Linked DNA regions of Homo sapiens: region 1 is linked to region 2. The links come from fine-mapping of genetic effects on gene expression. A gene starts in region 2. The other region holds a variant in brackets. All regions are shown on one strand. Distances are from middle to middle.

Region 1 (5,377 bases), 170 kb after region 2:
GGTGTATTACTTAAACCTGCTGGGCCTCACTTTGCTTCTCGGTAAAATAGGATTAATAATACCTATCTTGGCCAGGCATAGTGCCTCACACCTGTAATCTCAGCACTTTTGGGAGGCTGAGACGGACAGATCACTTCAGCCCAGGAGTTCAAGACCAACCTGGGCAACATGGTGAAACCCTGTATCTACAAAAAAAAAAATTAAAAAATTACCGGGCATGGTGTCATGCACCTATAGTTCCAGCTACTCCAGAGGCTGAGGTGGGAGGATCTGTTGAGCCAGGGACGTCAAGGCCTTGGTGAGCTGAGATCATGCCACTGCACTCCAGCCTGGGTGACAGAGTGAGACCTTGTCTCAAAAAATAAAACACCAAAATGTATCTTCATATGGCTGTTAGGAAGAGTAAGTTAAAATATAAAAGAATGTAAAACAGTGTCTGGCACAGAGTACGTGCGTCATAAGTGTCAGCTATTATTGTAGCTCCTGCTGTTTTTATCGATTTAGTTCTCCAAGGCTTTGTTCTTAACAATGGTAATTTGTAAAATAATAATAGCCTCTTGGTTCAGTTTCTCAGACTGTTTGTAACATCCTTTTGAGATCCAGTTCAGTACAAGAAACCATTGTTGAATGCCTACTATGTATTAAGTGCTATGGGGGACATATATCAGTAAGGGATATTCTCTTCTCTCCAGGAACTTATAAACTGGTAGGAGAAGTAAGATGTTCAAGGGCTACTATTACACAAGGCAAAATATTATACTTTTCCCTAACATATAAAAGGTAGCTCACAGGAGGCCTAGAGTAACTGAATGCTGTGGAGTGAGTGGGGAAGTTCAGATGAACAGGGTAGGCATTTCCAGGTGAAGTGAATAAAAGAGGTAGGAAAAAATTCACGGTACTTGAGGAAGAGTAACTGGCCAGGCTTGATTAAGATAACTTGAAATGGGAGAGAGACACTACAGGCAAGGACACAGCCAGGGAGCTACCACTGCAGCATGGGAAAACATGGCAGGGTAAAATTGATAAGAGGGGAGTGTGAGTGTGAGGAGGTAGAGTTGAAGTTGGCCCAGACATTTAAAAAATACTGGGAAAGATAGTGATATCATTAAAGAAGTAAGAAGGATGGGAAGGGGATTAGGTTTTTGGGAGGAAAACAAGTTTGGCTTTGGATCTACTGAATTTGAGATGTAGGCAGGCGCATGGTTATGGTTCTGCGATTCTTGGACGCCTCCCTAAAAGCTACTCTGTGGATAGAAAAAGGCAGATATTAAGATGATTCCCAGTAGATTCTGGTTCCTCTCAGATGTGACTTGGAAGGCCCCTACACCTGAAGACTTAATTATGTAAGGAGGCTTTCCTTGGCCCGTGGGATCCTCCTAACCCTCCTCCTCTGAACATTTTCTTTTTTTTCTTTCTTTTTTTTTTTTAGACGGGGTCTTGCTCTGTTGCCCAGGCTGGAGTGCAGTGGCATGATCTCAGCTCACTGCAACCTCTGCAGTTTCTCATTTAGTCTCTGAATGACAGCTGTGCCATTGTCATTCTGTGTAGTTTGTAGTTGTAACACCGTTTAGGTTTAACTGGCTTTTGAAAGAAAGATAGTTGTTTTTTTTTTTTTTTTTTTTTTTCCTGAGACAGCATCTCACTCTCGTTACCCAGGCTGGAGTGAGAGAGAGTAGTGTGATCTCGGCTCACTGCAACCTCCGCCTCCCAGGTTCAAGCAATTCTCCTGCCTCAGCCTCCTGAGTAGCTGGGACTACAGGCGCGCACCACCACACCCGACTAATTTTTGTATTTTTAGTATAGATGGGGTTTCACTGTCTTGGCCAGGCTGGTCTCGAACTCCTGACCTTGTGATCCGCCCGCCTCGGTCTTCCAAAGTGCTGGGATTACATGTAGGCATGAGCCACTGTGCCTGGCTGATAGTTGATTTTTAACTTAAAAAAAATCCCTATTAAGTTTTTTCATTAAGCAGTATTGCCAGAGTGAAAATAAGAGAAACACCCATCAGTCTCCCCTAGCCCGGATGTGCTTTGAGTCATCTAGCTGAATTGTTTCACCTCAACAGAAAAGGCTCTAAGTGAAGAGAAAGAAGAAAAACAGAGGCATATTAACGGTAAAATATTTTCTAGGCTAGAAAAAGGCATTGCTTGGTGAAATGGCTATAATTTTTAGATACAAAAGAAAAAGAGTTTACAAATAGTACTTCCTGATCTGTGTGAGTAGTTCTTTCATTCACTATACTTATGGTGGTAAACATTTGTTAAGCGTAGAGCATCTGGAAAGCTTTTTTTGCTGGGTGGTGGTCCTCGTTAGGATATTTTGAGTTTGGAAGAGGTGTTTTTAAAAAAGTTTTAGGAGGAGGACTCAGTGTTTTGGAGGTTTTGAGCAAAAGGCAAGACTCTGATGCTTTGTGGATTGTTATCGCCCTGCAAGACCCTTCGCAACTTCCTCTCACCGCCCACAGCAGAATACGGAAACTCTGCTGTATCAGGCCACTTCTGCAATTACAGACAGTTGCACTTCAAGGGGACCCTTCTTTCACACTACATCCTTCTGTTTTTAGACTTTTTTTGCGTTTGAAAATGTGTTTTTTGAGGTGGAATACCCAACTGACCCCTCATCTCTCCTCTCTCTCTGCTGCCCTGCAGTGCTACAGTTGAAACTCCAGCAGCGCCGGACCCGGGAAGAACTGGTGAGCCAAGGGATCATGCCGCGTAAGTGCCTCTCTCTCTCAGCATTTGGTAGATTGCTTTTAGGACATGGCTGTGTTCACCGAGTATGCCATGGGAAGCATCTAACATAAAACAAGGATGATGCGTTTTATTTTCCACTCTCTTCTTTCTCATGACTTTCCAAGTTTAGAGCTCAATCACTAAATAGTTAAGATAACTAATTGATCAAGTTCAGTGAAACAAACTGTGTTTAAAGGGTCAA[A/G]CCTGGTTTAAATTAGGTGTAAAGGGTGCCACTGAATTTTCCTTTACTTTGGAATTGCACCTTTAAAAGAGTTTTCACTCTGTTATACTTCCCTTTATAGGAGGGGCAGATCTTGAGCCTGGTGTATTGTGAGGAAGAACCACTTCTCCCATATGCTTTGCCTTCATGTTCTGGTTCTTAGGAAGAGAAACCTCTTTTCTGGTATTTTGAATCAACCACAGTTTTATGTAGAGTGAGATCCTGAGATACTCTAAGGCTGGCCTGGGCGTGAGCATGGCTGAGTAGAGTCGTTGATGGCGCTATCACGGCACCGGGCTCAGTGGGTGCAGAAGTCCATCCCTTAGGGGAAAAATGAAACCAAACCTTGGAATCTGTTAGAAGTAAGGAAATTTGCCTTTAATACCAACAGCATTATAAACGGAGCTGAAACTGGAGCTGGTGAGGTTTTGATCTTTCGGACCTTTCTTTTTTAAATCATCAGCAGAGAACATAGGCTCTCTTTTCTGTTTGTATGTTATCACTACTTGGATACACTGTAAGTCAAAAAACAATCATACAACTTCTGGCTTCATGGTGGGAGAACTGATGTTTTTCACTTTAACTCATTGTCTGCTGGCTGACTGCTACCATATTTTCCTAGCTCTCATTCATTCATTCATTCATTCATTCAAAATCTTTGAGTACCTAATATGTGATAGTTGATGCAGCAAGATAAATCCAGCTCTTGCTCTCAGGTGATTTATATTTAGAAGGGCAAGACTAGTAGTAGACAAGAAATTTCAGAGCAGGGATCACCTTGAAATGCAGTTGGTAAGTTCAGAGCCTGGTAAGTACTATCAAGTAAATTAACTGATTGGTGTGTTAATAAGTAATAGGAATAAGATGGAGTCACTTCGAATAAGATGTTCAAGAAAGGCCTCACTGAAGAGGAAAGATTTGAGCTGAGATCTAAAGGATCAGATGAAGCTGGCCATTCAGAAAGCAGGAAGAGGGCTCAGAGAGAAGAAAAAGCAAGTGTCTGGGCCTGGTGCAGGCCAGAAGTTGGTGTGTTTGGAGATCATCAAGTAAGCCAGTGTGGCTGGGGCATGGTGGAGAGAGAGAAGGGGCAAGTGAAGATGGGTAAGGTGGGCAGGGCTAGAGCCAGGGCATTATCACCCACATGGAGGAGGTGGATTTGGCTTTTAATTTTAATTTTTTTTTTTAAGACGGAGTCTTGCTCTGTTGCCCAGGCTGGAGTGCAGTGGCATAATCTGGGCTCACTGCAAGCTCCGCCTCCCGGGTTCACGCCATTCTCCTGCCTCAGCCTCCCAAATAGCTGGGACTACAGGTGCCCACCACAGCGCCTGGCTAATTTTTTTTTTTTTTTTTTTTTGTATTTTTAGTAGAGACGGGGTTTCACCGTATGAGCCAGGTTGGTCTCGATCTCTTGGCCTCGTGATCCTCCTGCCTCAGCCTCCCAAAGTGCTGGGATTACAGCCTGAGCCACTGTGTCCGGCCTTCATTTTAATTTTTAAGAGATGGGGTCTTGCTATGTTGCCCAGGCTGAACTCAACCTCCTGGGCTCAAGCAATCCTTCTGCCTCAGGCTCCTTAGTGGCAGGGACTACTGGTGTGCATCACCATGCCCAGCTGGATTTGGTTTTAAGTGCAATGGGAAGCCATTGAAGGCTTTTAAGCAAGTCAGAATGGACCTACCACAATAGTGATAGGGTCCATTTCTAAGAGAACCTTATAACAAGTGTAAGAAGCCTGGGGTCTATTTCTTTTAACTTTTTTTTTTTTTTTTTTTTTTTTTTTGAGACAAGTTCTTGCTCTGTCATCCAGGCTAAAGTGCAATGGCATGATCATGGCTCACTGCAGCGTCCACCTCTCTGGCTTTCAAGCAGATCTTCCCACCTCAGCCTCCTGAATAGCCCTGGGACTGTAGGTGTGAGCCATCATGCCTGGCTAATTATTTTTACTTTTTATAGAGATGGAGTCTACCTATGTTGCTCAGACTGGTCTTGAACTCCTGGGCTCAAGCGGTCCTCCTGCCTAACCCTCCCAAAGTGCTGGGATTACAGGTGTGAGCCACCTTGCCCGGCTTGGGGTCTATTTCTATCCTAAACATCAGCCCAGGGAGCTTAAGTCCCAAATTAATCTTTTTGTTTACTGCAGTTCACTGCCAGACTATTTACCTACATTATGCTGTCTTCTGTGGCCCTCCAGTGAAGGACTCTCTACCCCCAGTTCTTAAAGTGTTAGGTGGCTTGTTCATTGTATCAGCAATGTGATCAGGTAGGGCAATGCTGTGCTTTACAATACACTCCAAACCTCCCAGTCCATACTGTGGAGAAACAAGATAGCTACCCAGTTTCTCATCTACTTGTCCCTTTCACCAAGGACATCATATACTTAGTGTCTACTTTGTGCCTAGGGTAGTCCTAGATGCTACCAAGATTAAA
Region 2 (5,377 bases):
ATTTATAGTAGAGACGGGGTTTCACCGTGTTAGCCAGGATGGTCTCAATCTCCTGACCTCGTGATCTGCCCGCCTTGGCCTCCCAAAGTGCTGGGATTACAGGCGTGAGCCACCGCGCCTGGCTTTTTTTTTCTTTGAGACAGAGTCTCTCTTACTCTGTCACCCAGGCTGGAGTGCAGTGGTGGGATCTCGGCTCACTGCAATCTCCGCCTCCCAGGTTCAAGCAATTCTCCTGCCTCAGCCTCCCGAGTAGCTGGGATTACAGGTGAGCATCACCACGCCCGGTTCATTTTTGTATTTTTAGTAGAGACGGGGTTTCACCATGTTGGCCAGGCTGGTCTTGAACTCCTGACCTCAAGTGATCCTCTGGTCTCGGCCACCCAAAGTGCTGGGATTACAGGTGTGAGCCACCACATCCAGCCTAACCCTTTATATATACACAAAATATATATGTGTCTATATATAGTATATAAAACGTATACAATTTAAGTTGTCCAGAAAAAGTATAGAGATATTTGTGAGACGGTGAGGTTGCCTGCAGTCTCTGCCATGAATGGGCAGATCTCTTTTCCTGTGACTAATAAAATACACTTGTGCCTCCTCATTACCTGGGCTTTTTAAGGAGGGCTGTGTCTGGGTGGGTACTATCTGGAATGCCCCACCTTGGTCATGTTTTGGGGAAATCTGCCCCACCCCAATAATTCCAGTGGGGGTACTTTCTCCTCCGAGGCGCACTTCTGCATCCTCTTTTTTTTTTTTTTTTTTAAATACGGAGTCTCGCTCTGTCGCCCAGGCTGGTGTGCAGTGGCGCCATCTCGGCTCACTGCAAGCTCCGCCTCCCGGGTTCATGCCATTCTCCTGCCTCAGCCTCCCGAGTAGCTGGGACTTGACAGGCGCCCGCCACCACGCCCAGCTAATTTTTTCTGTTTTTAGTAGAGACGGGGTTTCACCGTGTTAGCCAGGATGGTCTTGATCTCCTGACCTCGTGATCCGCCCGCCTCGGCCTCCCAAAGCGCTGGGATTACAGGCGTGAGTCACCGCGCCCGGACTGCATCCTGTTTTTGTTTTTTGTTTTGAGATGGAGTCTCACTCTGTCGCCCAGGCTGGAGTGCAGTGGCGCGATCTCAGCTCACTGCAAGCTCTGCCTCCCAGGTTCCGCCATTCTCCTGCCTCAGCCTCCCGAGTAGCTGGGACTACAGGCGCCCGCCACCACGCCCAGCTAATTTTTTCTGTTTTTTAGTAGAGACGGGGTTTCACCGTGTTGGCCAAGATGGTCTTGGTCTCCTGACCTCGTGATCCGCCCGCCTCGACCTCCCAAAGTGCTGGGATTATAGGCGTGAGCCACCGCACCCGGCCTGCATCCTGTTTTAGTCACCTGGGATACCGGCCTGGCATTGCAGTCACCGCAGTACGTGCCTTAGCATCCTCCAGTTTGGTGTAAGCACCCCCAGGGTAGTGACTGTATCTCATCTAGCTTACCCCCTCAGTGTTCTTACTCAAAAAATATTTATCGAATAAATAATTTTATCAGGTATTTTGTGCAAGAATTTTTGCCTTGGGGAAGGTGTGTGTGACTAAGAGCCCACGAGGATCCCGTCTAACTCCAAGATTCTGCGACCGGCATTGGAAGCTGATTTATAGTGAGTAATTGGGAATACCCAAGGCCACTTTGACTTTTGCCGCCATTGGATAGAGCAGCACCCTCTCCTACCCTCCCTCTGAGTTCACCCATGGGCAGTCCCAGAAGCCTTTGATGGGGAAAAGGGGGTCATAGTGAGAATTTACCTTGGAATGTAAAGTGAGCCGCCCCTTTTCAGTCTTTGCATCTTCACGCGGGTCCGCCCCAAACCTAGAAGAACGCCCCTGACCACTTCTTCTTCTATCTACTGTTACTCCTTCCTCTGACTCTGGTGACCCCATCCCGGAAGCCTTCCGGAAAGCGCTTCCCCCTTTTCCACCCCATCGAGTTGGGGTTATTTCTCCTTTTCTGGGCTCTCTCCCATTGCTGGGGAGGAAGGCGGATACGAAGGGCCTGCATGACCGCAGCTGTCATCACAGTGGGCCTGGCTTACCTTGTTGCTCTCTCCCCTTTCGCCTTTCTCCTTTCTCCCTGTTGCAGTCATGGACTTCACTCATAATACATATACATATACATATACATATACATATACATATACATATACACATACACATACACATACACATACACATACACATACACATACATATACATGTTTTTAAATCGGGCAGCCACCCGCTCCCCGCCCTCAGCCCGGAATAGGTTCAGAGAGGTGCCCGGGTTCACTTGCGGAGCGTGTGGCCTCTGCGCCTAACGCGCGCCCCTTCACTACACGAATGGGTGCGGGCAAGGGTATAGGATTTTAGAATTCCAAGAGTTGTCGGGGGTCATCCCGTGGAATCCTCTTTTTTGCAGATGCTCTTCCTGGAGCCTTCCGATGCAAGCTCTTGGGCTCACGCAGCCCTTTTCCTCTTCTAAGCCCAGAGCGCTTTCGCTGCTGCTGATCTCCACGGCCTCGGCAGATAGGGAGGGGCAGGCAGGTGTCAGCGTCCTCCCTTTCACCGTTGGGGAAACTGACTCAGAGAAACAAGGCGACGGGCCTCGGCGGGGCGGGACCGTAACGGGAATTCAAGGCTCCAGGCCAGAGCGGAATTTATTGTGTCTCGTTTTGGGAAGCGTGAATGTGAAATGATCGACTTCGGAGCCCCAGGCGGAGACCCTTCAGTCCCCGACAAGAATCGGGATGGGGTCTGGGATTAATGCAGTAATTACTCGCGCCTGGGCATTGACCCCTTGGCAACTTCGCAAGATCCGGCAGGGTCCACCGCCCTTCCCTTCACAGGGTGACCACAGGGCTGCGGCCTCTTTAAGGCCCAGAGCTCCGCCCCCGGCTCGTCGCCAACCCCCTCGCCGCAGCTCAGCCAGTTCCAGACTTTCCTCAGAGATGAGGTCATCTCCCCGTTGCCCATTGGCTGCGCCGTGCCGTCAGTCACAGGAAGTCAGGCCGCCGTTTTCGCCTTCTTCATGCCGCTTCCTTCTCCGCCCGCCCTTTAGTCCGCCGATCACGACCCCGATCAGGCCTCTGATTGGCTAGCGCCGCCGTCACTTCTCCAGCGGACAGTCTTCAGGACGGGAGGCGGGCGTGGTGGGCGGGCCCGCAGCTTCCGTGGCTGAGAGGAGCCGGCGGCGGCAGTGTCTGTGGTGGCCGCGGCGGCGAGAGCGACGGTCCCATCTTTCCCACCCTCTTGGTTGCCGCTGGCCACACGCCCTCCGCTGGCGGCGACTTCTCAGCTCCGTGCGCCCGGGCTGGACAGTGAGCCTCGAGAGGAGACGCGGGCGGCTAGAGCCGGAGTGGGGCGAGCCGCGGAACCCGGCCGGGAGCCGCGCGAGGCGGTGAGTGAGAGTCCGGGTTGGGGACCCCTCCCCCACCGCGGCCTCGCCCCGCCTGGAGCATCCTTTTTCCCCCCCGACCCTGCTGCGCGCGTCCTCGGGGGGTCGGGCGAGGCGGCCCTCGCGTCCCCTGCCCTCTTCTTGCCGGCCTTCTGCCCCTGCCCTCGGGGCCGGAGTCGCAGAGCGGCGGTCACTGTGCCGGGGCTGGGACCCGGGCCGGGCCGGGCGGGCGGGCGCGGTCGTGCACCTGTGCACTGCCTGGCAGGGCTGTGCTGCGCGGGGCGGGGAGGCACGGAGGTCCTCGCCCTCGCTTCTCCCGGGATGTGTTTTGATTGCAGGGACGGGGTGTCGGCCGCTTTCTCTGGGGTCTTGTGCAGACCTTCAGGATCCAAGTGCAGTCCTTGGGATTCCCAGGCAAGGAGGCTCAGCTGGACTTGTTGGTGCCAGTATAGCAAACCTGAATGCTGCCAGGTGTACAGGGCTCTGCAAATCTGAAACTTGATGGCCAAGAACTTTACCTCCTAAGAAAGCGTCTGTCAGGACGCTGATGCAGTCCACCCTCCCCGCTTCGGGTACCTTTGATACTCCATAGTGCCTAGGGCTGGACCTTTTGAGTCGACTCCCAAACCTGCCACTTGCTAGCTGTGTAATCTTGTGCCTTGGTTTCCTCGTCTGAAAAATGAGGATAATAGCACCAATCGCATACGGTTGTTTGTTGTAAGTGTCGAATGAAATAATTCACGTGAAGCGTTTGACACAGTGCTTGGCCCATAGTAAGGGCCCAAGAAATGTTTGCTTTTGGGATGTTGAGAATGCCTGGTTTGCCTGTGTGCCTTTAAGCACTAGCCCAGCTTGGCATTGTCAAGATTTCTCTCTGTTGTCTCCCTGTTATGCAGCATAACGAAAGGGCAGTTGAATGGTTAACTTGCTTGCCAGCCTCTGTTTGGCATGAAGTGTGTGTATATACAGGAATGTGGAATACATCACTTAAATATAATAATGGAATTACCCCATGCTTCGTATGTTTTTACATAGTTTTAAACTCATAAGACGTCTGGAATGTCCCCGAGTTGCAAGTTTTTGAGATCTTTTCAGGGTCCTTTCTACATCAAGCCGAAGCCTGTAACGTTAAGACTTATTGTCAGTAAGAAGTTAGACCTACATGTTTTACTTCAGAAGACCCCCAAAACTCCAAATGTCACTTACGCAGTTTTACTGTTGAAAAGCAGTCATCTCCCGGGGGTGAGGTGGTACAGCCAGCTGGCCCACAGCCCTATGACTGCAGGGTGGGGAACCTTTGGCTGGAAGTTATTAAACTAAGTTTTGCTTAATGTCGTTTGCATTTTTCATAGCGAACCAAAGGGCTTTATGTTACTGTTTCTTATTGAAATGATTTAGAAAGAAGCAATCCATTACTGCGTTCTTTAAAAACACCTGCAAAGAAAAAAATATCTGTAGTTTAGCTCTAGTGTTTGTTTCAGTTTTTGGCCAATAACTATTAAGAAGAGCCCGTTTTTAAGAAGGCTTCCAAAAGTCACATCCACTTGAATAAGTTATTTAGAGTCAAATCAAGAGAGGTGGAAGAGTAATATGTATCCCATCACCCAAAAGTATTTATTGGAGAGTTTCCATGTCCTTAGTACTCTGCCAGATGCTATTAGGGAGTGATTAAAAAGAGTATGAAATAGAATCTCAGCCTATAAAGGGCAAAACCATAAAGTTTGGGTCACCCGTTAGTAATTACAAGTACTACTTAAGGGATGACTTCATTTATTCATTCAACAGACTTTTTGTTCCATGTTTGTAACGTGCCAGGTGTTTTTCTAAGGGCTGGGGCTGTCAAGATAAGTGAGATATGGTCCCTGCTCATGAGGAGCTCACAGTCTAGTGGGAGAGGCAAAAAATGACAGATGATTGTAACGCGCTGAAATACACTCTAAATCCAGACTTCACTGGGAGAGTCAAGGG

The links. PIP is the estimated chance that this variant, and not a neighbour inherited with it, causes the effect. A credible set is the group of variants that fine-mapping cannot tell apart.
Region 1: its variant is the best candidate, but not a certain one, in a credible set for the expression of MRTFA in whole blood (TOPMed, PIP 0.88).

The regions. Positions count from the first base shown.
Region 1 is chr22:40,460,558-40,465,934 of GRCh38, reverse strand. It overlaps MRTFA (myocardin related transcription factor A), which reads left to right. Exons shown (of 15, transcript NM_020831.6): 4 at 2,649-2,714. Among named protein-coding and RNA genes, the nearest start is that of MRTFA-AS1, 59 kb to the left of the region's middle. RefSeq lists an enhancer at 2,277-2,386. The variant A/G (reference allele first, on the strand shown) is at 2,935.
Region 2 is chr22:40,634,513-40,639,889 of GRCh38, reverse strand. MRTFA (myocardin related transcription factor A) reads left to right here and starts at 3,171. Exons shown (of 15, transcript NM_020831.6): 1 at 3,171-3,412. RefSeq lists enhancers at 898-2,097, 2,837-3,146 and a silencer at 3,407-3,716.